Regions from separate parts of the Homo sapiens genome. Here region 2 is linked to region 1. A link means that fine-mapping ties the variant in region 1 to the expression of a gene that starts in the linked region. Tissue or cell type: atrial appendage. Region 1 holds a variant in brackets; the other region holds the start of a gene. All regions are shown on one strand. Distances are from middle to middle.

Region 1 (2,500 bases):
GTATTCAGACGAAGTGGTTGGTGTTCCAGCGAACCACTGGAACTGGTGGGTTTGGGTGAATTTACTGTCCACCTATTAATCTGGCTGGCTGGATAGTGTCCTAATATTCCCTCATATGTGAGCCCCCATTTAACCTTCTGCTCAAAGAGGACAACCTTCCTTAACAGAGGAACCCTGCGTGTCAATCCCCAACATATCAGTGATTTTTCTATCCTGTTAGAATCTCCAAGCTAACTCTCAAGGTTCGTCCAAGGAGGAAAGGATGTATAGAATAAAGATCTTCATTTTCTAAGTAAGATAAAAATGGTAAAAGTTTCATTGTCCTCTCAGATTTAATATAAAATCTATATTCCCATAAAAATCTCTCCTAGATCTTAGCTGATTAGGAATTAATCTCTTCTTCCACTAAACTCTCTGAGAATTTTCTTTTTACTTATATTAAACTGTTAATCACAACCTTTCTTTTGTTAGGGTTCCAAGAGGCCCTGACACTTAAACTGAGTCTTGAAAAGAAATATCAGCTATGATAAGGGGGGGATGAGTGAGAGAAGGAAAAGCATTTCTGGTAGGAGAACAGCATGTACAAGAGCGTCGCAGCATAAGAGAGCAGGCTGTTCTGCAGAAACTACAATAGATTGGCATAGTTGAATGGAAGTGCTTGTGTTGCAACACGACCCATTAGGAGGCCTGAAAAGCATCAACAGCCAAGGCCAGATCAAGCTGGCCTCATATGTCACGTTGAGAAGTTCAGACTATCCTGGAGGCTCTGGGAGCCACTCTAGGACTTTAAGCAGGGAAATGACATCATCTTTGGATTTAGTAAATCTCTTGGGTGGCAGTTCTTTTTCTTTTGTTTTAAATTAAAGACGTATAAAGGGAACAGTGTTTTAATTTTGGAGATTGTATAGTATATTTTAGTTTATTTTCCTTCTTTCTTGATAGCCAACTTTTTTTTGTCATTTTTGTGTCATTATTCCATATTAATTTTGAATTAGATGCACTAACAGGCTTAAATTAGAACAATTCTTCACACGTTCTTTCATTTGTGGTCAAGCAATCTTCCTAGATGCATTTTTGGGAGACTTACATGTCTGCTAGCCTCAGATTGGCTGAGAATCTTCTTGAACCCTACTTGCAATTCCAATTAGTCA[C/T]AGATCAAAACATTAATGTGGACAGATTAAAGCAGAAGCCCTCATGCTTTATTTCCTAATATCATCTGTCTTTGCTTTGAAAAGCACACCAACGGAATCTTCTGCATCTGTACACCCCAAAGGCAATTTAATCTCCCTTGGCCAACATTAAAGCTTTAAAGTAACTCTATGCTATGATGTATTTTTCCTCCTTTTCCAAGTTCAAGAATTACATAATTCACTTTTTATCAGACTCATTCTAGAAGACGATCAGTTGCTACATTGTTTATAGTTTTGAACATTATCTAAAAGAAGCCCTACAAGCTTAAAATTAAGTAAATTGATTTTTCCACATACTGTCATGTGAAATTGAATACAGGCAAGGACATAATCTAGAGAGTATTAACATATGTTGCTTTGTAATATATTTACTAATGGTAGTATTTTAAAAGATTGGGGAACTAAACCATCCGTTTATAAACTTTAAATACCAAAATAACTTCTCCCCACTTACTGGGTCGATTTTAAAATAGATTTTTCTGTAGGTGTGGGTCTCCCACCTAAACTGAAGCTTATCCTTTAAAGTGCCAAGACAGTTTCAATGTTAAAAATTGGTATAGGAATATTTTAGTAATTTATTCTATACTTTACTGTCTTAAAAAGAATTTTAATTTTTCTTATCATTCATGGTCACCATCTTATAAACACCAGTACCTGCTCGGGAGCAACTTTTGAAACTAATGAGTGAAAACTGTGGGATTCCTTGTTAACACACCAAATGGTGATAGATAGCTTTGCTTTATTTTTTGGTTCTAATTTCTGAATTGTTTATCCTTTGCTGTTTTTTGGGTTATTAGTTGATAAGTCCTGCAGTTATCAATGAAAAGTGAAAGGGATTTTTTTTTTTGTATTTAGTTTTTATAGAATTGAAATATATATTCAACGTACATTCAAAAGCCAAATAAGAAAGCTTATCTGGATTATATGTAAAAGAAAACAAATAGGATGTGAAAGAGATCCCAGGGCTCATTTTTGAAGAGATTTTAGTGCATGAGATTTGTACAGTAATATTCGACACTCAGCATCCTTTTTCAACTCTTGGATTTGTTTTAAGAGGCTGAAGTTGCAAGAAGACTGACCTCTGGGAAAGCGAGGTGTTGTTACTTAGCTACTTGGTAGGATGGTAAACTGACTCTAAATTTTTAATGATTGCAAATGAATACAGAGTGTATTACTTCAGGATCTAAGGATATATAGATAATTGTTCTGTAATTTCATTTGTTTTATATATAATAATAAAACACTAGTAATCTGGTAAATTGAATAATCATATTCTTAAAATTAAGGATGACTTAAATTATCACTGCAAA
Region 2 (3,021 bases), 35 kb after region 1:
AGTCGCCTTGGTCTCCGAGAATAGGGTTCCTCCTGGGTCACCGCGTTCACCCAACTACCTGTTACCTTCGGGCCTGGGTTTTCCACAGAAAAAATTACGCAATGAGCCGCCGCCTCAGGGCTTTGGAAGTTGCAGTGGGGAGAGAAGGGGTGGGAGAATCCCCCAGGGATGATAGAGAGCTTCAGGTCTCCCTTTGGGTGTCGGTGCCGCTGTTTACCAGCCCAACAGCCTTCAGCCCACTTCCCCTTTCCTCCCCGGGGGAAGAGATGGTTAAAGATTACACAGCGGCCGCGGGCACTTCAAAGGGCGGCGCGGGCAGCCAAAGGTAAAGATAACGTTCTGGCAGCTCTAATCGGGGTTTGTGGTTGCCACATTTTAATCACGCCGTTAAAAAAGAAAGAAAATAAAAAGAAAGGAGGGAGGGAAGGAAGGAAGAAGGGAGGAAGGAAGGGAGGAAAAGAGGAAAAAACCCCAAAAAGGTTACATCACGTCACAGTGCAAGGGATGCAGACTAAAAACCCTTTGGAGCTGGGCAAGTTGTTTCTCCTTTGGGGAAACTTTCTACAGACCATCTTTTCGTGGAATGCGACTAGACGCAGAGAGGCGGTTGGGGCGGGGACCAGATGGCAGCCTGCCTTTGGGTACCAGGCTCTGGGTCACAAATGTCCACTCCGCACGCAAATGCCTGCATTTGCAGGAATTCGCCCTGCGATGTTTCTAGCGCTGGACTGGGAAGCTGCGGCGCAGCAGCGCTTTCCCGGGTTGCACTCGAAGCCATTTCTCTGCGGGTCCAGAAAGTGCCGGCACGCTACTCCCCGAGACACGTGCATTTCTCTGGGGGCCCTAACAGGCCTGGCCAGGATGCCCTTGACAAACTCGCCCCCCTCCCCCACGAGCAGGCGGGCGCCGAGGAGCCTCCAGCCTCGCCTTGGACGAACCTTCCTTCCCCTCTTAGTCTCTCTCCCGGAGTGACGTGGGGAAGTACTTACAGGTAGGAGGTGAAGACGCTGAGGTTGGAAGGCAGCTCCGAGAGCCCCAGGTCGGAGCAGTCCACCCTGAGCAACATCCTGCCGTCGGGCTCGCAATGACAGTGTGTGGGGCAGCCCCTCAGCAACACACCAGACCTGGGAGAGCTGCCCCCGGTCGCCAGCTGCAGCAGCACAGGCAAGGACAGGAGCACACCGAGCCGGGAGGTGTCCATGGTGCCCGAAGTAGGGGGCCACGAGCCGGACGCGGGCGGAGAGCAGCACCGGACTGCTACGGGCCGTGGCGCGCCGGGCGCCGCTCCGTGGGCTTCTGCAACTCAGCGGGCGTCTGCAGCGCCAGACGCCGCGTTCCTGACCCCACGGCGTGGGCGGCGAGGAGAAGCGCGGCGGGGACAGAGGTGCCGGTTGCCGCCACGCCGGCCTTCGGAGCAGCCCTGGCTGCAGCGGCGACAGTGGCGGTGCGCCTTGCTGCTGCTCGCGGCCTGAGCGGTGTGGAGCAGCATCTCTGCTTGCACGCTCGTTTTTTAAAGCGCTCCAGCCCGAATTGCGCGCCCAGTGACGTCAGCGCAGCCTGGCTTCCCAGGCACCCCCCGCCCGGCCCCACTTTCCCTCCACTTGTCCCCTCCCTCCTTTCCCAAGTCCTGGGCTGGGAGGCAGCAGGCAGCAGGCAGCGCGCGGTACTGGCGAGTTCTCGGCGCTCCCACTGAGCCTCCGCCTGGAAGATTCAGTGCTCAACGCCGCGCGCCGGAATAGGGGACCCCCCCACCCTTACCCCTTCATGCGTGCTGGAGACCCAGATCTAAGAGTCGAGAGGGACCTGCTTCGGAGAGACCTAAACAGACGCACAAGGACTGGAGGATGCGGCACGTTTCCTCCGAGCCCGCTTCAAATAATGGATGAGATACTTGAAGTGATTAAACAGAATAAAACAAAACAAAAACACAAAAACTAAAATCCTATGCAGAGAAATAGTTACGTTATCAGGGTAAGGAGGCAGGCGTCCCCGGCGAATGATAGGTGGCCTTTTTGATCCTTACGTCTGCCGCACTGTCTGGCTCGCTTTTGCCCTAAAATCAAAGCTCTAGGCTAATCGCTAAACAAATACAGCTCCTGAGCGAGCACTCCACTGCTGCCTTCCTATCTCTTGCGGGGTGAGGAAGTCGAAGTGACTCATTTGTTTTTTAAAAGTGGTTTAGAATACCCTAGAAGTCACTTTTAGTAAATCGATGCCAGAGTGACAGATGGCTGTTTGCTAACTTCCAGGGACTTTTCATCTTAAGTGTCCCAGCGCTCTCTGAACTGAGAGCAGTCCCACCTATGTGAGTGACACTGGGCTCTGAGAACCGCTGCAGAGCGCCAGGGGGAAAATGCATGCTCTTGCTTCAAAAAGTGTCCTATAGTGAATCTGCAGGAAAAAGGAGGAAAAGGATTCAGGGCTTTCTTGGAGAGAAGCCCTCGTTGAGGTACAAATAGCCCTCGCCAGACCTGAGTGAGCTGCTGAAAGAGGTGGTATTCCAAGCCTGCCACACCAACTCACAAAAATGCAGTTTTCACTCTGGGGCACAATGCCTCACAGCATCATGAAGGCAGGATACCCTGTTGATTTTCCAAGTCCTTTTTAATCTTCCTGCATTTAGACTGCCCAACAAAATTTCCCAAATAAACGTCTAAATTTTAGAGTTGGGAAGAGCTGTTTCTCTGTGCAGTGTATGTGCCTTCCTTCATGTCCAAACCTCGCTGTTTGTTCACCTAAAATATATAATTTCTTGACCACAATCTGTAGTCTGAACATCTTCCTTTCTTGGGTGAAAAAACAAACAACAAACAAAGCACTTGACAGTGCTAGTGCCACTGAAAATTGTGAGTTAACTCCGGTTTCCGCACAATCAGTACAGAGAGCCCGCGTCTCTGGACACCCTTTTCCTTCACTTTTCCCTATGTATACCACATTCACTGCTACTCTGTGCTTATTCTCACATTATTCTTGCTTCCCTTAGCCATTCTTTCCACATTTAAAGAATGCCTACCTTGTGTC

What was found.
Region 2: LGR5 starts here. The variant in region 1 is fine-mapped to the expression of LGR5 in atrial appendage (GTEx, PIP above 0.99).

Annotation. Positions count from the first base shown.
Region 1 is chr12:71,473,684-71,476,183 of GRCh38, reverse strand. The region is part of intron 1 of LGR5 (leucine rich repeat containing G protein-coupled receptor 5); the gene reads right to left. Among named protein-coding and RNA genes, the nearest start is that of LGR5, 35 kb to the right of the region's middle. The variant C/T (reference allele first, on the strand shown) is at 1,152.
Region 2 is chr12:71,438,261-71,441,281 of GRCh38, reverse strand. It overlaps LGR5 (leucine rich repeat containing G protein-coupled receptor 5), which reads right to left and starts at 1,484. Exons shown (of 18, transcript NM_003667.4): 1 at 990-1,484. The coding sequence starts at 1,201. The region is part of intron 2 of LOC124902962 (a long non-coding RNA gene); the gene reads left to right.